Regions from separate parts of the Homo sapiens genome. Here region 1 is linked to region 2. The links come from fine-mapping of genetic effects on plasma protein levels. A gene starts in region 2. The other region holds a variant in brackets. All regions are shown on one strand. Distances are between the middles of the regions. Region 1 overlaps EREG (epiregulin). Region 2 holds the start of EREG (epiregulin).

Region 1 (10,857 bases), 16 kb before region 2:
ATTGGAGCAAAAATTACAAAGTGGGTCAGATACAGGTTTTTAAAAACTGCATTACTGAATTTAACAAAAGTCAGACACTAGAATCATATATTTGCTGCATAAAAGTTGATTTGATACCTGGTGGTGATTGAATTTAGTCTCAAAGACTCATAAATAAAAATCTGACTTAAGACGTAGTCATACCAGTATACCAATTCTCCCATCACTTTGACTTTCGGCAGAGAGATTAGAGCAAAAAATATTCAGGAGAACAGTGGAGTTACATTGTATTATGTATGTTTAATATAATATCAATTTTAAGGTTAAGGTTAAGGAAATCTTAATTTTAAGGTTAAACCTTGAGTACTAGTTATAGAACTTAATATTCCTGGTTAAAGAGTAAGTTAACTGGGTTATTATGTGGCCTTGGTTGAAGACCATAAATTATGCATTTATGCATTTGTGGTTGCTTTGGTTCTCAATACATTGAATATGCATAGCCCCTTCTAGAAATATATATAGTGAGAAATCTGTAAAATGGGGGAGTTAGACTAAGTGTGAACTAAAATCTTCCCACTGTGTACAGGACACATCAGCTGAGAGCAAATCAGTTTTTATGTTTACTCAGCACCATCCTCACTAAAACTATTATTTTTGTCTTATTTTCACCCATAAAAAGTAATGTGGGTCATACTTTATTATTTAATATGCATTTACAAAGATCTAACTATTTTAGGGATTAGCTTTTTTAAGCATTCTTAAAGATGAAAAATACAAAAATGACTTGTTTTTATGAATTGACATGCTTAAGATAAACTGACAAACCAAGATTGAGATGCTTACAATAAATCTTTTGTAAATGAAATAAATGGATTGCAGCTGATTTATTGAAAAGTCAATAGATTTTTTTGAAACAGCCAAGATCACTGAAAATATTCAGACTCTCCTCACATCTAGTAAGCGTTAATAAATACAGTTGTACCTTGGTATCCACAGGGGACTGATTCCCAGATCGCCCCCCTGCACATACTAAAATCGGGCACAGATGTTCAAGTCACTTATATAAAAGGGCATAGTGCTTGCATATAACCTATTCACATCCTCCTGTATACTTAAATCATCTTTACATTACTTGTAATACCTAATGTAAATGCTACGTGCGGTGGCTCACACCTGTAATCCCAGCAGTTTGGGAGGCTGTGGAGGGTGGATCTCAAGGTTAGGAGATTGAGACCATCCTGGCCAACATGGTGAAACCCCGCCTCTACTAAAAATACAAAAATTAGCTGGGCATGGTGGCATGCGCCTGTAGTCCCAGCTGCTCAGGAGGCTGAGGCAGGAGGATCTCTTGAACCCGGGAGGTGAGGTTGCAGTGAGCCGAGATCGTGCCACTGCACTCCAACCTGGGCAACAGAGCGAGACTCCATCTCAAAAAGAAAAAAAAAAAAGTAAATAGTTGTTATAATGTATTTTTTGTTGTTGTTGTATTATTTTTTAAGCATTTTCCGTCCTTGGTTGGTTGAATCCACAGATGTGGAACTAACCACAGAGGGCCAACTGTAAGTAGAGTATTTAAAATGTGTTCTTACATATTTTGACTTCAGCTGTATTAAATAGGAAACAGAAATAACTGTTTAGATCTAATTGATTTTTCTTTTCTCTTGTTTTTAAGTTTTATATAAATGGTTAGCAGAGCACCAAATGACTGCAATTCTATGATCCATTAAGGTCATGTATACATACATGTTTGTATATGAATATATATACAATATGTATATGACCATATATATTTACTTGTTTTTGTCTGTTTATTTTCCTAATAGTAAGGGCCAGGGCCAGGACTTTAGATGACAGTCGTGTGATTGCACCAGGGTATATAATGCATGGATACACATGGAGACAAGTCCTGGCACCTGGTGCTCCAGAGGTCAGCCATGGCTTATTATGCCTTCGTTTACCCTAGCACATGCCAGGATAAACGTAGAGGAAGAACAGATCCTCCCTGACCTGGTATGTGATCCAGGGAGACTCTACTCAAAGGTTTAGCATTCGATGAAGGAGCCTCCCATAAAATCCAAAAGTGGTGGCAGCAGTGGCTCCTTATGCAATAGCCCAAAAATACTCCTATTAACTCTCTGAGACCTATGGGCTCAGAGTGCAGAAGAAATCTTTGTCTCTTCCAAAAAATAAACAAATGTCAGGAAAATGAGCCCTAGTTTTCATCTCAGCCTCCACAGGAAGGTGTGTTTAAGTTTCTACATTTTAAAAGCTTTCAATTGAGATTTTTCATTTGGAAAAATACACCATATTAATTTTTAAGTTTTTTCCCATTTCCTGTGTCAAGATACAACTTTAAATACATAACTTTACATTCTAGAAGAAGCCATTTACTGAGCTGTATTAAAGTTAAAACTTCCTTGAATAAAAGATGAAATAACTGTATTTCCATCTTAAGACAACATGTAGAATTATTGTCTTCATATATTTTAAAATAATAATTAGTCCATCAAATTTTGGGCTGTGATTTAATGTTAGAATTCAGCAAAGCCCCTATAAAAAGAAATAGTCTAAAAATATTCTTAAAAAGCACAAATTTAGGCTTCAAGTGTGGACTTTTTTCTAATTGTCTGTTGAGCAATAATTACCTCACATAAATGTTGTAATATACAAAAAAGGAACATTGTGAAGCTATGAAATGCCCACTACTTAAATAAAAGATTACAGAAAATTGTTTTTCAATTCATTTTACATAGGCAGAATCTGGTAGATGAGTGACTAGTACCTGTAGGAGTCGTGAGTTGGCATAGGGAACTGTCCACTGCCCCTCATATAACAGAATTATAGCTGAGACCTGAGTGAAGAGACCATAGACTCCCCAGGGTTAGCTTGTTTCAAATGTGTAGTGTTTAACACAGGACCTATATTTGCTTCTCCCAAATTCTAATTGCATTATTGTTTTAATATATGATACCATGGTGCCAACTACATATCAAACCATGGTACAGTCAAACCAATTATCACTGATTTGAGGAACATAAAAAACATACTTACTAAATCGATTTGACTATATATATAGGCTTACAGAAATCTGTCATTTGCTAACAATTCTTGAGCTATGACCTGGGAATTGCTTACTTCTAAGCACTGTGCACCAGGCATATAAACTTTGAAGCTTTCAATGAAGCATTTAGCTCAGGAAATTACTTGTATAAAAATATCAATTTTCTTTTGATATTAAATATTTTCTGCACATTATACATTAGCAAATAGTCTGTCAAAAATAAAACAAAAATAAAAACATTTTTCAAGTACATTAAAATACAGTGTTATTGACCTAACACTTGACCCAACATAAATATTATTAATAAAATGGGAATATTAATATTAACCAGGCACACTGTTATCCCTGCCCATAAGTTTGATGGCGCCATTCAGACTTGCGGCAACTCTGGATCCCCTGAGGTAACTCTCTCATATTCCTTCTTTGGTTCTTTACTTTTTCGATTTCTGTACCTGGAAATATTCACAAACGAAACTGTTAGCACTGCAGTTAATAGCAAAGGAACAAGTGTGTTATATATGGACTCCAAAGGCACATTAGCATAGTGTTTCCAAAATGACAAAGTTGAACAGATTTAGGTTGGACAATGTTAAAAAAAAAAAAAAAAAGAGGGATGAAGAGGTGATGTGCTGTAGTCAAACAATTTTGGAATGAAATGATAAAATACACTTAAAGAGTTTCTCAAAGTCTTTAACGTGATCATGAATATTGTGAAATTCCAAGAGGCGTGTGGCCACATTTAAGTCTGAATTTTAGGTTTTCTTTTTCTGTCTCTCTTTCTTTTTCCTTCCTCCCTTCTAAGGAATGAATATTTACAAATCATGCTACATTAATACACTCTTTCCATCACATTGATATAATGCTATCACTAATCAAAATAAAAATAATATTTATCAGGCACTAATTTGGTGACCTACAATTTTCTAAGTGCTATACATGCATTATTTATTTTACTCTCACATTTGCTGTTACCATCCTCATCTTACAGATGAAGAAAGTGAAATACAAATGGGTTGTATATAATGTGCCCAAGGTCCAAGGTCTCATAGCTAGGATTCATAGATTTATCATAATTTAGAATCTTCTTTCATTTATTCATTAAGCTATTTTCCTAATATTTTTGAGTTTATTTTGTCCCTATTTTGGAAATAAGACATGTAGCTTTGAGGAAACCACATCATGTCTATGTTTACTGTAAGAATATGAATTAGAAAGAATTTGTTCTTCACTCTGGCATTTGTCAACTATATGAGCTGGGATATTTGAATGAACCTCTCTAAACCTCAGTGCCCCATCTATAAAGGAAAGGATTGTGGTCAAAGATTTGCAGGCATATTTCAGTTTTAATAATATTTAGTTCTGTCATGGCAACTTATTAGGAAGGCATTATTATTTGATGGATACTTAGAATCAAATGTGGACAAAATAAATTTAATATTATGAAAGTAGCACACTTTCAGACCTTCAAAATTGGAAGTGCACTACTTTCACAGAAAAATAAAAACGTAAATTCACCTTGAGTAATTTGTAACTGTTTCAAAATATGTTTCATGGAGACATTTTAAAGGGAACTGTTATTAATTAATTCACACTGTTCCCATCCTTTGCTCCTAACCCTTAAAAAAATGCCAAACTATACTTTCAATGTTCACTTTCTATTTTTCTGTTTTCAGCTTGTGACAATAATGCACATGAGGATGAGGTACGACTGTTTTGGGGGACTGACACAAACTATTTTTTAACAACCATTTTTTATAATTGTCTAGAAATAGTTCCACCAGTCTGCCTTAAACTGTAAGATAACCCAAGCTTCTAAGGTTATTAATTTACAAGGTTGTTTTTTATAAAATAAAAAATGTGACTTGAGGAATTAAATTCAGGTGGTTAACTATAACAGTAGCACCTATCCTATGATTTACTTTCACATGAAATATCATATTACATACTAAAAGCAACCACCCTATAACTAATGTAAGATAATAATTTCTGTCCATATTTGATAAAGAAGGGAATTGATACTCTCAATTTGACTTATGTAAGGTCACATAGGTAATAAGTATCAGAGCTGATAATAAAGTTCAATCCAGATGTTCTGCAGCAAAAACATATTTTTAAAAAATAATTTCAAGTTATTTCAGATTCGGGGGTACACATGCAGGTTTCTTAACAGGATATATTGTATGATGCTGAGATTAGGGGTACAGCTGATCCCATCACTCAGGTGTTGGGCATAATACTTAATAGTTTCTCAACTCTTGTAAATATCATTTGTACAGGTTTGATCTTATCTCTCTAATACTTTATCCATATTTTTACCCAGTTTATAGGTCTGCATTATGTAAAAGTAATTTGTAAAAGCAGAGTATAAAACCACACTGACTTACCATCTG[C/A]AGAAATAATATGTGGAACCGACGACTGTGATAAGAAACAAAATAATAAGAATCACGGTCAAAGCCACATATTCTTTGCTTAAAGGTTGGTGGACGGTTAAAAAGAAGTGTTCACATCGGACACCAGTATAACCCACTTCACACCTGAAGGAAAATACGGAAGAAAGAAAGATCAGTTACTTAAAAAGGAAATCATGGTTATGAATTAGTTTTATAAGGACTAACATCACACTGTAATGCAAGAAATCAACAAAATTTGCTAAAGATTGTAAAGAGGATTTCAAAGATTGAGTTAGACCAGTAATGATAAAAGGGCTCCACGTAGCTCTTGGACTAAATTGTAGTATTAAAATGACGGTTGTGTTCAGCTGTCATGGTGGCTGACAGTCCACAGTGGTGTTTTGTAAGTTGTACAGGTTTGAGATTCCTTTTGTCTAAATCAGTGGAATCAATTCTTTTTTTGTTTGTTTGTCTGTTTGGTTTTTTTGAGATGGAGTCTCGTTCTGTCGCCCAGGCTGGATAGCAGTGGTGTGATCTCTCGGCTCACTGCAACCTCCGCCTCCCAGGTTCAAGCAATTCTCCTATCTCAGCCTCCTGAGTAGACTACAGTCTTGCGCCACCACGCCTCGCTAATTTTTGTATTTTTAGTAGAGGCGGGGTTTCACCATGTTGGCCAGGCTGGTCAGGAACTCCTGACCTCAAGTGGTCTGCCCGCCTCAGCCTCCCAAAGTGCTGGGGTTACAGGGTTGAGCCACTGCGCCTGGCCTGGAATCAATTCTTTTTTTTTTTTTTTTTTTTTTTTTTGAGACGGAGTCTCGCTGTGTTGCCCAGGCTGGAGTACAGTGGCATGATCTCCGCTCACTGCAAGCTCCACCCCCCGGGTTCATGCCATTCTCCTGCCTCAGCCTCCCGAGTAGCTGGGACTTCAGGCGTCCGCCACTACCCCTGGCTAATTTTTTTTTTTTTTTGTATTTTTAGTAGAGACGGGGTTTCACCGTGTTCGCCAGGATGGTCTTGATCTCCTGACCCCGTGATCCGCCCGCCTCGGCCTCCCAAAGTGCTGGGATTACAGGCATGAGCCAACGCGTCCGGCCTGGAATCAATTCTTAAAACAATACCTGATATAGAAATTGAAGGAAAAGATCCAAAGCAGAGAGACACCATCTTGGCAAGTGTGAGAAGCATCAGAAGTCCTCCCTGCTCTGCACCTCTGACATATGTGTGCAATTTAAAAGCTACTATTTACTACCTAATTTTTAAAAACTCAGAAAAGTTTCTAATAATATATATACTGCATTTAACAGCCCATGGAAATATAGGGTAATTTCAAAATATAAAAATAGAAATACAAAGAGTAAAACTGCATTTGTTTATCACATGTTCTCACAAGTGGGAGCTAAATAATGTGTACACATGGTCATAGAGAGTGGAGTAATAGACTCTGGAGACTTCAAAAGGTAGAAGAGTTTTGGGGGGGTTAAGGGATGAAAAATTACCTAATGGGTTCCATGCACACTATTTGAGGGGTAGGTACTCTAAAAGCTCAGACTTCACCACTACTGAATATATCCACTAGCAAATCTGCACTTGTACCCCTAAATCTATAAAACAAAATTTTACAAACTGTGTTTGTTTATTTCTGACATATTACCTGCAGTAGTTTTGACTCATGTCCACCAGATAGATGCACTGTCCATGCAAACAATAGCCATTCATGTCAGAGCTACACTTTGTTATTGACACTTGAGCCACACGTGGATTGTCTTCTGTCTGAACTGTAAAAGAAGTGGAAAGTTGAATATATTCTGCAGCCTTCATGGAAGAATTTCTCACTCTTTCATAACAGTAACCACTGAACTACTTCTACACAACAAGTCAGATGCCAATCTGTCAAGGAGAATTTTGAGAAGTAGGAAGTCACTCTAGTTGTCACACCCCCTAGACCAATCAATAAACACTTGAATCCAAAGGAAAATGTCCAACAGACTAAACAAAAGAAGATAACATGAAAGGATTTCATTCTCAAAAGACAACCTGTAAGGGTAGAGAAGGCAAATTTAACACACAGGTGTCATTATCCTCCAAGTGGGTGTTATTTCTTCAAGCAAAATTTGTCTAATTTTTCTCAAGTCCCAAAACATTTCTGAAATCTATTACTCCCCAAAGCAGTTGCAAGCTCATACCATTAATTAATTCAAAGGAGCTTAATTCTACAGTGGATTTTTAATCAGTAAGGCTGGCTTTGGTGTATGTTTTCAAGTTGCTGAGGTTACCATTAATGAAATTAACCAGTCTCCCAATATCTCTGATAATGAGGCCTGAATCCAAACTAGACAAACCCTGAGTGAGAAAGGCCTCTGGTAGACAAATAACAGCAATGAAAATAGGAGCCTTTGTGTAAAATTCACTTTAGAAAGCTTTAGATACCAAAATGTGAAAGATGCTTATAAAATTACTTTTAAAATAGCAATTTGATTGTAATACTCTTGCCCAAATAACCAAAGAAGGAAAAAAAAAAAGATGATGCGGAGGAGGCTGACCAAACCTGCGGAGGAGGCTGACCAAACCTCCAGAGAACCTGATGGTGAGGGACAAAAGATAAAGTTGTTATGGAAAATATCCTGCTTCCTCAAAATAACTCAGTTATCTTGATTCAATAACTCAGAATGAAGATAAAGCTGATCCCCCTTGGACCATATCTGGAGTCCACAGTCCTCGAGGGGAAAAAACTGTATTACTTATCTTTGTATCTGTATGCCTTAGCACAGCGTTTGGTGCATACTACATACTCGATAAATGTTTTCTGAATGAACACTGTGCCTAGAAAGAAACGACTATCATTTGTTCTTCTTACAAAGAGAGAGAGAGGGGTAGAAAGAGAGAGATAGAGAACCTATTCTGTACAAAGTTTTCCTGTTTTGCTGTTTTGCCTGGAATCCAGTCAGTGTGGTCTCTGAGGATGTTTCGCAGTAAAGTGCCAGGAGACGGCCAAAGGGAATGCAATTTTTTGTTGTTGTTGTTCCCTATCTCTTCACAATCAAATCTGTGTATATAATTTATCCGGTCCCTCTCCTACCAGTTATTCCTTTATATAATTTTTTCAGAACATTAGTTTATATGGTGATTTAAAAAGTAATATAGCAGCTATTCTTACCCTTTTTTAAAAAATTATCACATACTTATAGTCTTTGAGTTTATATTTCTGTTTAAAAATATGTAGTCTCTTGATGCCACATTGACAAACTTGGGCTTACCTAAAGCTGTGCAGTTATCACTGGACTCTCCTGGGATACATGATGGAATCACAGTTGTACTGAGGACTGCCTGTAGAAGATGGAAACCTATTTATGAAGAAAAATCGAATATATAACTAATGTGTTAAGGAAAGAAATCTTGATCAAATTTCTACATAACTGCAGTACTTATAGAGTTGTTTTGTTTCACAGATTTGGTCCATCAAAACCATAAAACAAAATAATTCATGGAAACAGGCATGTAACAGAAAATACAAACTCCCCCAGCTATTCTGTGGAAGGATAAAAGCCTTGGCATTACATTCACGGTTACAGATTTGACCTGCTCTAAATATTTCACAGTAACATTTTCAAAGATTTGATTTTGAAGTTTGATTTCTTAAGACGCACATCAGTTGGAGAATTTCCACTGTTTTATTCCATCATGTGTTCAGAGAAATGCTCCTAATCAGACCCCATCACAAAAAAAGGCTCTAAATAAAAAATCGGTTTCCACTTACAGTAACAACAAGAAACTCAACCTAAGAAACATTCATTATTGATTTATGTACCTAAGTTACTCTTTGCATTGCATTACACATGAGTATAGATTTTAATTAATACAGTGAAAGCTAGGTAAAATCAGAATATATCTTGTCTAATATGAGGAGGAACAGGCATCCCAGATGAACCATACTGAGCCCTAGAATCCAGTTTCTATCAGCATAGGAAGAGTCTGAATCAGCTGTTTCATCATGTGTATTCAGTGAAAAGATAAAATTTTGGAACATAGATATCAAGAATGACTCAAGTACTTTCTGAATTGTGTAGGAATCATCATAAGAAGAACCCTTGTAATTTCACAGATGTTTAGTTAAGAGCTTTAGCTGCTTCTGTTTAAGCTTTAGGTATTTGCACTTCAAACACTCTTTCCAATTTATTTAAGTAACTGTTATATAGTAAATACTAATGGTGGTGGTAGTAGTAGTAGTAGCAGCAATTAAGCTCCACTAAATTAATTAATGGCTTCAGCTTGCAATTGCTTTGGGGAATAACGAATTTCAGAACTGAGATTTGAAAAAAATTAGACATATTTTGTTTGAAGAAATGAATAATACCTACCGTGGGGGATAATGACATGTGTGTTAAGCTTGCTTTTTCTACACCCTAAAGGTTGTCTTTTGAGAATAAATACCTCCTATGTGATTTTGTTTAGTCGGTTGGACATTTTCGTTTGGATTCCGGTGCTTATTGGCCTAGGGTGCGTGATAACTAGAATGACTTCCTACTCCTGAAAATTCTCCTTGACTGATAGGCAGCTAGGTAAATGTAATCTAGGTAAAATCAGAATATATCCTATCTAATATGAGAAGGAATAGGCATGCCAGATGAACCACACTGAGAATCCAGTTTCTGTAAGCACAGGAAGAGTTTGAATCAACCTGTTTCGTTGAAGTAGCTAAGTAAGTGGTAACTGTTATGAAAGGATGATTAATGCCTCCATAAAGGCAACAAAATATATTCAACTTTCCATTTCTTTCACAGTTCAGACAGAGGACGATCCATCTCTTGAACATGTACTATGTACCAGTGATATAGTTTGGCTCTGTGTCCCCACCCACATCTCATCTGGAATTGCAATCCCCATGTATTGAGAGAGGGACCCGTAATCCCCATGTGTCCAAGGAGGGAGGTGATTGAATCAATGCGGGTAGTTTCCTGCATGCTGTTCTCAGGATAGTGAGTGAGTTCTCATGAGATCTGATGGTTTTATAAGTGTTTGGAAGTTCCTCCTTCCCGCCTCTCTCTCCTGCCACCTTGTGAAAAAGGGGCTTGCTTCCCCTTCGCCTTCGGCCATGATAAGTTTCCTGAGACTTCCCCAGCCATATAGAACTGTGAGTCAATTAAAGTTCTTTCCTTTATAAATTACCCAGTCTCAGGGAAGTCCTTTATAATAGTGTGAAAACAAACTAATACAACCAGGTATGGTCCTATTCACCTTATCTGTATTATATTATTTAGTCCTCTCAGGGCCAATTTGAGGAAGATACTATTATTATCCCCATTAGAGAAAACTAAAGCATAAAGAGTTTAAATAACTTTTCCCAAGGATACATATTGTTAAATGGGCCACTTTATAGAATTTGGAAATAGGCAATAATACTAGAGTATAATGGACATCACAGAGAACAAA
Region 2 (10,857 bases):
TTGTGGTGGCATTTGGGCATGAAGGCATGAAGGGAGTGAACATATTTGAGTTTAATGTTTATCTATAGGTATTACCTATTTATATTTTTGAGGCTGTTGGGAATACAGTAAAGGAATAAGAATTTATTTGGAGATTAGGAGAAGTCTATTTGAAAGTCATATGAGGAGATACTGCCTTTAAAGGAATGGAAGACATTTATATGTTCCAAGGAAAACAGTATGAACTGGAAAATAACAGAACTTTGAGAAACAGGTGGTAGAGAGCAGACAGAAGTGGCAAAGAAAAGAGAAAAAGAAATTAGAGAAAAAAGAAAATTAAGTTTGCTGAGAGCTAAGAGAGTAGAGTTGTAAAAGGAAGTAAAGGGTGGTTATCAAAGGAATAATCAGAGACAGTATTCATGATTCCATCGTAAATAAGACTCATCATTATTAGATGTGAACGGTGCTAAAATCAGCAATAAATATTGCCAAGCTGATTTTTTAAACATGAGAATGGGCTTTATATTTGTATCCAGATTATCATTAAAATTAATTTTGTCTTGGTAACTCAAGCACTAATTTTCCAAACTGTGAAGTATGGGTGGCAATGTGTAACAGCAATTAAAAAAAAGTATATTTTATGTTATTGGTTCTAAACCAGGAGCAAAATTGCCAACCAAGGTTGGCAAAATTGTATCCCTCATTGGCAAAATTGCTCCTGGGGACCATTGCTACCATATGGTAATGTCTGGAGACTATGATGGTTGTCACGACTGGGGATGCTACTGACATCTAGTGGGTAGAGACCAGGGTTGCTGCTAAACACCCTGCAATGCATAGGACAGCCTCCCTGCAACAAAGAATTATTTAGTCCCTAATGTCAACTGAGACAAGGTTGAAAAACCCTGCATTAGACTCATGAGAAATGGAATCCAGTTCTAGCTCACATACTTATTTTGTTTCCCTGCAACTGAGCTGCCTTATCTCTGAAAACAGAGAACAAGGAATGAGGTGGGGTAGAGGGTGAAATGAAGTTTGGATTAGATTTCTCTAAGGTTTCTTTAATTTCTAAAACAATGCTTCTCTTTCTGCCACTGGCAGTCATATCACTGCCACTTTATTCAGTCATATCATAGCTCAGTAACCCCTCTCTCTTCCTCTCTTCCTCTCTTTCTGTCTCTCTCTCTCTATCTCTCTCTCTCACACACACACACACACAAATATCTTCAGTTAATACTGAATAATATAATAATATAATAAGAGATAAAAATGTGAAAGAGAGAGAAGAAAACTTATTAGACTTCATCAGAAACAACAACAGAATTGAATTTTCCAAAACTGTTACTTAACCTCTAGGTATTTTGCTTCTCAAAATATCTTTTTTAATATTTTTAAATACATTTTTAAAGTGCAGCTAATTGAGTCTATAACATAGTGGTGATAACTCCAAATAAAGTATCAATGTGATCATCCATCTAGCAAATATTAATTGTGTTTAATATAAGCCTATCACAATAGAAATGATAAAAGATGACTATAGCACCAGCAAGGAGGGATAGAGTTATACACACACTTACAGTGTGATGTGTGGTGTGACAGGGCCATAGGACAAAAGGAATGGGAAAGGTGCAATGGAGGAGGGTCAGGGCTTATCAGAGAAGTGCCTAAGGAAGTGGCTCCTTTTTCAGTCTTAAAGGATGAGTACTTTCACCAAAAGTAAAGAGTGACTTGAGGGCATTGACAGTAAAGGATACAAGCGTATTCAAACCCAAAGCCTTACATGCTGTGTACTCCTGTTTCCTCATTTGTAAAACGGGAACAATAACAACTTTCTGGGCTAAAAAGGCATCCTAAGAACTAAATGAGGCTTTTTTTTTTGTAAGAAACCATTTTTATGATGACAGCTCTAATTTTAAAAGTGCTTTCTATGAATTCATGTATCATCTTATCCATTAAATCTACATACAATTACCTGACAAGGTTATTGTGGACAACCTTTTTTTTTTCGGATGAGAAAACTGAGGCTCAGAGATAAATCACTCTTTCTGAAAGTATGAAAGAAAAAACTGGTGCATGAAATCTGTATTTTATACACTATACACTATGCCTCTTAGTTCAAGACTATAAAACTTACATATATAAAGATGTGTGTGTGTGTGCACGTATCAATCACTTTCATGCCTCAAATTTAAAATTGAGAATTTTTAACCTAAAAGATTAATGTTTAATACTTTTCTTTCTGAATATTACATATATCTCCATGGAATACATCCATATATCCATGGAATACTACTCAGCCATTAAAAGGAATGAAATAATGTCTTTCGCAGCAAATTGGATGGAGCTGGAGGCCATTATTCCAAGTGAAGTAACACAGGAGTGGAAAACCAAAAAACCATATGTTCTCACTTATACATGTACTATGTGTACTATGAGTACTATGTACTATGTACTATGTACTATGAGTACACAAAGGCATACAGAGTGATATAATGGACTTTAGAGACTCAGAAGGGGAAGGGTGGAAGGTGGGCTAGGGATTGAAAAAAAACTACACATTAGGTACAATGTACACTACTCAGGTGATAGGCGCACTAAAATCTCACAATTCACCACTATAGAATTCACCCACGTAACAAAAAACCAATTGTACCCCAAATGCTACTGAAATTTTTAAAAAAGGAGATGGAGGATAAACCTATATATTAAGAGTCTTATGAGATATATTAAAAAATCCATTTTTTTCTGGACAATTATCAAATCATCCTGAGTATTATAAATAGTATCCTAGTAAGTTAAATCATTACTTTAACCTAGAAGGCCACTCAACCTTTATGTGCCCTATAACTAAACACCCAGTCTTAGGTAAACTGCATCTCCAGAAGACGCTGAGTATGTGGCATTACTTCATTTTTTCAAAGGTTCCAGAATTGCCATGTCAAGGCAATGGCTGTCAGACTACTCCTCCCTGAGGATCTCTTCTATTACACCACTGGGAAGTGTTCTCATTGTCTCCCGATGGAATGTTCCCAGCAGCAGTTACAGCCATATTAATTAGACGATTTGTACAGGCCTACACTCAAAGTAAAGATTGACAGATGAGGAAACCCCACCTTAATTTACATTCTCTTTGAAGAGGATTTCTTACTTGACATTTGCATCTTTCACGTGAACATTAACCAGGAAATGGGAGATTCTTTTGCAAAAATAGACAGAAAACATTCAAATTCAGTTTCTCCGAAGTGATTATATGAGTATTGTTATTTTTTTTAAACCAAGGAAATACATTTACGTTCTCACAGTTAACAGGAATGGGCTATAGATCCCAAGTTGATCCCTTATCAATGCTATATCCAATTCACAATAATATACAAAGAATACAAGGAATAAAACAGACATAAGTTACCCTCTTTATTGCTTTACTTAATGTAAACCTTGGAAAATATAAAAATAAGGGCCCCAGTCAACTGACTTCAATGACTGCTTCATAATAAAAATCATATCTTAGGGGAACTGTGTTGATTAGAAATTATGAACATTAAGTAAAAATTCAACATATTTTAGCACAGCTTAAGAGAATAGTCACCTTTTATTTGCCTGATTTTGCACAGAGTCAGAAAGTCCATTTGTACATGTGCTGTGCCTATGAGAGGGTCTGAACCCTGGAGCAGCCCCAGCTACTCTGGAACTTCTCTATTAGAATCTGCTATGTTTATTATGCTCCTGCTAACCCTGAATCTCATTGGCTCTTTCCTCATTATCACAGAGTGACCTGGCCATTTACTATCTCTGAGTCTTTGTAAGGTACTTGACTTCACTGGGCTAATCAAATCTACCTCACACAGTTATTTTAAGAAGTAGAGGTGATGATGTATTTAAAGCACCTAATACACAACATGGCTGCCACACAGTAGGCATTTAGTAACTGTTAGTTTTCTTCTCAACTCCTGGATTTGGGTCTTAGTGCTGAATCAGACACCCCAATTACCCAAGCTGCTCACATGGCAAGACTGTGCAGAAGGTGGTGAGGGTACCTGGTCAAAATCCAGACAGGAAAGGCCTGTCATCACGTTTTCTGACAAGATTTGTCATCTCAGGTTGTGCCAAGACTCAGGTAACTCATAAACTCTCAGAGTCAACAGAAATGATCAAAGACAAGCCTATTGTCTCATTGAGATTTATGCTCCTCATATTTTCAAAAAAGAATATTTCTTCTGCTTAATTCTCTCTCATTGATGAAGTACGACTAAATTATCTTGGAGATGTCATTCAGGAACATATTCAAAAACCCATGTAGGCATGAATAAAAATGTTTGATGTTAAATAGAAAGCCCCTGAACATAACTGCAGAATTCAACATAAAAATTTATCCTCCTCTCTTTAGAAAAATCACAAGATAAAAAAGACAAAATTCTGCTCTAAAATTATAGATTATTTAAAAAAATGTTATCCGGTATTTCAACTCTTCTACTTAATGTTCAGTAGGCCAAAAATGCTAGCAAGCCCAAGTGTGGACTCTCACTTTGTCACTATTTTTCTATGTGAACTTGGGTCACAGTTCCCCAATTTATAAAACAAGAGCCTCAATATTAAACAAGTGTAAAATTTAAAAGTAACCAAATGATTGTGCATAGCAATTTAAATCTGTATGTGTTAAGGGTGGAGGCTGGAACTTTATTCCCTAGTCATAACTACATAAAGCAGTTATAACATGTATGCTAAAATTTAAAATAAATGTCTCGCTCTTTTTTGCTGGGGGAAGGACAAGATTTGGGAAAAGTATTTTTAGGAAATATTTTGTTTGGGGGAAAGAAGGCAATTTCAGAAATAACAGGTGGTCTTGCCAAAATAAGGCTATGGGCTCTGCATAACTGAATAGAGTTTAGAGATATAATACAGAACTTGAAACAGGAACTTTCCTAGTGGCAGAGAAATATCCAAACAAACTGGGAAAACAGAAACTGACCTAACTCATTTGGAAATGGGCTTGGCAGCTGACGAAATAGATGAACTATAATTAAGTAATGCAATGAAGGAGGTAAGCACTTTCATGACAACAAACACACACACAACACACACACTAGTGGGTAGTAACCAGGTTATTCACAGGCTCTGGCTGTCTCAAATTAGAATATTCAATGAAACACCCAGAACAGACATGTGCATTGTTCAGATGCAACCTTACATGTGGGGAAAATAATAAGTGCTAAGTTATTCTGACCTCGAGGTTAATTTCTAACTCTAGGAAGACTGTCACCTTTCTAATTTAATTCTTTTCAAAACAAAGACAGCAAAGCCACATTGTTTACTGAGAATCTTCTAGCAAGTCTTTCTTAGCTCAGTTTTGGCAGAAACCACATATCTAGTTTCCACTTGTGTTCCTGGACTTAGACTTGTAAGTTTCAATTATGCATAGTATGCATTTCATTAGGTCTCTCAACCCCTGAGATAAGGTGTGCCAAAATAATAATTTAACAGTCACATCCTTCACAGGTAGAGTTAGAGTGTCTGGGGAATCAGCCTCATTCCAACTCCAGGGAGAATATGAGACTGGTGGTAACTTTTATTTTTTTATTAAGATATTCATATACGACTTCAAACTCTTTCAAATTCCTTAAACTGAAGTTTAAGGAATTGGAAAGAAGTAATTTTTTTTTAACAGAAAGGCTATTTAGAAAATTTTTCCCCTTGAACTAAATCATCTCAAATAGGAAGACTGGCATTTAAATACCCTCAGCGATCACAGGCTATGGAGTGCAATTAGCAGCAAGTGCAGAACGCTTGCTCCAGAGGCTGCTTGGGAGGCTGCAGGGAAAAACGCAAGCAGCAGGTGTAGGGGCGAAGGGCGGTGGGGAGCGCCAGGACCTGCCCAGGGCCCTTCTGCTCCAGATACCCTCGACCAGTGTTTTATTTCTCTTGTGTCTGGAGCTCAGCCAACTGGCACTGGCGCATACCAGCTCCTCCGGGAAAGCTAAACCAGGCTAGGTTTTAGAAAACTGAGCGCAAGACAGAGGAGAAAAGCTTTTTCCCCCCTCCAAAAAATTTCTTACGCTAGTTTCTATTCCCCACTCTCCAACAAAAAGGAACAAGACATGAAATGTTAACAGTGCGTTCCAGGCCTTTAGATTTCTAGGACTGGCAACTTTTCAAAAAAAAAAAAAAAGCTTTTTCAACAACTTTTTATTTTGTTTAATAAGGAGATATTTCAATCCATGCATAACATATATGCCAATAATTAATTCACCAATAAAAAGCATTTTAACATCGATCCCCAGTCCCCCCCACCCCAGTCCCACCATAGGGGAAGACAGACTCACAAAACAAGACGTAATTTTAAATAGAGCACACTTGAACCTGGAGACAACTCCGTACTTGTCGAATGACAAATGCACAGGAGCCTTCCTTATTTGTCTCCTCTTTGGGGCGGCCGGAAGCCAGAGGGGGAGAACTTACCCAGGCAGAGCAGCAGCGCAGGGACCCTGCCGGCACAGAGCATCTCCATCCTCCTCCCCGCGGTCATCGGCGATGGGAGCGGGCGCTGGGGCTTGGCGGAGGGCGGCTGCGGAGAGTGCACGGGCAGGGCGGGAGCAGACGGGCTCGCGGCAGTGGCTGGAGAGCGGCTGTCAGCCTAGAAGGGACCCCACGTTGGCTGTGTCCCTCTGACACTGGAAATATCAGGCAAGTGAGCTCAACTGTCTGGTGCTGCGAACTTTATACTAGGGAGCCCCTCCCGGGCCCTAACGGGGTGAGGTCAAGAGTGCCCAGAGTTTCATAATTGGCCCGAGGGAGGAGCGGCAGGAGGACCGTCAGGAAGTCATCCTCCCTCCCTGGAGCACCTGAGAGTAGTGGTTGAGGAATGAAAAAATGTCTTTCCGATTGGCCGGGGACTACTCCCGAAACTTTTCCATCTCCCTCCGGGAGGTGGGGAGCGTGGACCAGATGGCTTGGTTTGCTTTGTGGGGTCACCTGCCCTGTAGTGGGTGGTTTTGGTTGCTCAGGGTGACGGACATAACTTGAATCAGTCTTTTAGCCAAGGCTGGCGTTCCCCATACATGCCTTTGGAGAGCTGTGCGTGTGACTTACTAACCTCAGCCACGAAAACTCCCTTAACTTGAAGTCTGTCAGTGATTCAAGCGCCCTCCTTGCATTGAAACGCCACCGCCCAGAAAAGCCTTTCCCATCTGCGCCTTCCTTCTGAGACCCCTGCTTCCAATGTGGCTCAGGCATTTATTACCTCAAAGTCGAGTCATTGTGAAGAAAATTCCTGTTATTTTTTTTCCTTCTGTCGTATTTGCCATTTGTCAGGTTGCTGCTTTTGATATGACTTCCTACTAAGTAGTGCCTTAATCCTGTCGCTCCCCTGCACAAAACCTTTCAACGACTTCCTATTGCTTTTTGGACAAGGCCTGCCACAAACGTGAAGCCAATCGGTCTTTTCAACCTCAGCTCCCACTATTTCCCCAGGCAAATTGTCTGACCCCAGCCAGGCTGGAAAACTCTAAGCCTTTCCTCACTCCCACTTTCCTGCCTATGCTGATGGAGTCGTACTTTGAGGCAATGGCTACTTTTTAAAGGAATTAGTGAAATCCTGCTCAAATTCATGGTTCTCCTCAAGGGCCTGGGCTTCTTAGGCTTGTGGATCTCTTTTCATTCTGATCTCTTATAGCTTTTGTCGTTTATCTTCTCCCTAGCCTCATAGAATTCTAGACCCGGTACTTTACACCTGGGAAAGCTACTTTGTATTCCTTGACTTTTTTTTTGTTTGTAAGTCCTATGTTCAGCTCTGTACTGTGTAAATTGTCTTCCTTTTCACTGCACTCCTCTATAGGACCTAAGAACTGTGAGTCAATTCAGCAGTACTGTATGTAAATATACATATTTGAATAGAAAATGGAATCTAATGGATGTTAACTCCTTACCTTTTTATTTCTACTTTTTAAAAAATTATTATTACTATTCCTTTTTTTTTTCTGGCTTTTTTCTCTCATACTCTAAGGCCCTTTAATGTCCAGAATGCTCTTGTTAGAAACAAATACTTCGGCCGGGCGCGGTGGCTCACGCCTGTAATCCCAGCACTTTGGGAGGCCGAGACGAGCGGATCACGAGGTCAGGAGATCGAGACCATCCTGGATAACACAGTGAAACCCCGTCTCTACTAAAAATACAAAAATTAGCCGGGCATGGTGGCGCGCGCCTGTAGTCCCAGCTACACGGGAGGCTGAGGCAGGAGAATGGCGTGAACCCGGGAGGCGGAGCTTGCAGTGAGTCGAGATCGCGCCACTGCACTCCAGCCTGGGCGACAGAGCGAAACTCCGTCTCAAAAAAAAAAAAAAAAGAAACAAATACTTCATCATGTTATCAGGGGTTAAGATTTAAACTGTCTGTGTGTGAATTCCTGGACAAGTTATTTAATCTGTCTCAATTTCCTCATACGTAAAACAGGGATAATAATAGTATCCAGCGCATAGGAAAATAATGAAAGTGCTTAGTAGAGTGCCTAGTACCGAGTTAGTGCTCACTAAAAATACCTACCATTATATGCAAACGTTGATGCTTAAGATGGTGGTACTTGGTAGTTGGTCAATATTTGTAAGTTAAATGAATCAATGAACAGTAGGATAGAGGTAGGCTGGGTTCCTAAGTCTAGCTTCCAAATCTATCAAGAAAGCAGGCATTGAGTGACTTCTCACTTAATAGCTTATTTTGGAAAAGAAGAAATGGAACCAAGGAAAATGATATTAGAAATGGGTTATAGTTTTATGGAGCATTGGTAGAGATCACAAGTTTCATAAATTAGAAAGAGGTAAAGTGACTTTTATGGTTATATAATGGCTTTTGTCCTACAAATTGGATCTGGAAAAAAAAATAGTCCCAGTGTTTTTGAGGAATGGAAGCAGAATTCAAACGAATGGAATGTCAACTGGGAGCATTTTCTATCAGGTACTTGCAAAGAGTGAGAGGAAGAGTTTTTAATCCTGATTAATGGCTTGTTTCTTTAAATATAGTGTGTTTTATGCTGAAAAGAAAGATGGTGGGGATGTGATGGGGAGAATGGGTCATGCTGACAATAATTGACAACAGTCACTTCTATGGTATTGATATGTGAAGAGGAATTTTTTAACTTTGTAACTAATGCCTGCAAGCATGAGATATCATCACTGTGAAAAAAATCCCTGTGCTTGTCTCAAAATTTTCCACAGCAATGTACTCTTTTGTAGGCTGATTTTATATGATGTGAAGAAATCTTTTCTTTATTAGTTCTATGTTTACTCAATTTTCTAGCCATTAGATATTGAGAATGACTCCACCATGACACATCAGAGGATTTGCACGCACTGCCTCCGCAAAATAGTATTCTTCTTCTTTTTTTTTTTTAAATAATTGGGAACAATTTTCATTAATTGTTCATTTAAATATATATACATAGTATGCGGTATAATCATAATTCCTCTTAAAGGCACAAAGCTTATTTAAAGATAGAATGGTTTGGGAAGAAAATAACCGGGTCATATAGAATTTTCCAATTAGGAAGTCACTTTAATACATCAGCAATGTCAGCAATTCCCAGTTTGAGATGTACTGGGATTCCTTTCCAAGGGGTTGGTAAATCGAATTATCTATAGACTAAAGCGCGCGCACACACACACACACACACACACACACACACACATATATATACTATTTTAAACATACATTAAGTCTCTATGTAATTAGTAACATGTATTCATTTTAAATTGATATTGAATTCATAAACGCTTTGTGGCATGTGTTTTTTCGTTGATATATAACAAACATATAAGCGCCGTTAAATGGGGAAGAAGAGTCTTGCAAAAAATAATCCTTTTAAATTAAAAGGGAGTCCTCTCATGAGAAGAATTAGGAAATCCTAGACTGGGGACATACACACACAGGCCCCAAACTGATATCAGTATTAAACCTATTGTAGCCTGCACTCAGATGAAGCCCTGGGCCCTACCCATAGAACCAGCATTTAGCAACAGACAAGGACATAGAACACGTTACAATTCTTCCATCTCTTCCTCTTTCCCTCAGGTTATTGTTTCTTCTGACTATAACTGGCACTTATTTATTATGAAATTACTGCTTTTCTAACTAAAAAAATGAGCATAGCTACTTGAGTGAATTAGTTTTTACATAACACAAAATGTTTTAAGTCGTTTTTTAGTCCTTAGCAAAAACCACTGAGATAAAATGGTATTGGGTTGCCTTTTTACAATTAAGAACTTGAAAAATTTAGGAACGTGTTCAAGATCAAATTGTTACATTTAATATAAAAAAGACCTTAAATATGAATTCTGTTCTAGCAGATGCTAATTTTTAATTAACATTATAAATTTAATTGTATGTTAATCATACAGGATATTTTTAGCAAGCTCCATGTAAATGAAAAATTTATGCCTTTTATGATATATATATTTTTTCGAGACGGAGTTTCATTCTTGTTGCCCAGGTTGGAGTGCAATGGCACGATCTTGGCTCACTGCAACCTCCGCCTCCTGGGTTCAAGTGATTCTCCTGCCTGAGCCTCTAGGGTAGCTTGGATTACAGGCATGCACCCCGATACCCAACTAATTTTGTATTTTTAGTAGAGACAGGATTTCACCATGTAAGTCAGGCTGGTCTCAAACTCCTGACCTCAGGTGATCCACCTGCCTCAGCCTCCCAAAGTGCTGGGATCACAGGCGTGAGCCACCATGCCCGGCCTGTAATAGCATTTCTACAGAAATATATGTAGATATAGAGAAAGTTGCAATTCTGAACCCCAAAAACAATCCAGTTAGAGACAAAATAGAGAAAAGGAAGAAACATATATTGATGTAGTAATACTCTATTTTACTTAAATAGCTTTTATCATAG

The links. PIP is the chance, under the fine-mapping model, that this variant and not a neighbour inherited with it causes the effect. Sun 2018 read protein levels with aptamers (SomaScan).
Region 1: its variant is fine-mapped to the plasma level of the EREG protein (Sun 2018, PIP 0.95). The variant lies in the coding sequence of EREG. If it changes the protein, the assay may bind it differently, which can mimic a change of level.

The regions. Positions count from the first base shown.
Region 1 is chr4:74,377,362-74,388,218 of GRCh38, reverse strand. EREG (epiregulin) reads right to left here. Exons shown (of 5, transcript NM_001432.3): 2 at 8,685-8,771; 3 at 7,082-7,205; 4 at 5,425-5,574; 5 at 1-3,492. The coding sequence ends at 3,411. Among named protein-coding and RNA genes, the nearest start is that of EREG, 18 kb to the right of the region's middle. The variant C/A (reference allele first, on the strand shown) is at 5,431.
Region 2 is chr4:74,360,951-74,371,807 of GRCh38, reverse strand. It overlaps EREG (epiregulin), which reads right to left and starts at 6,663. Exons shown (of 5, transcript NM_001432.3): 1 at 6,433-6,663. The coding sequence starts at 6,499. It overlaps LOC105377276 (a long non-coding RNA gene), which reads left to right and starts at 6,467. Exons shown (of 3, transcript NR_188415.1): 1 at 6,467-6,657.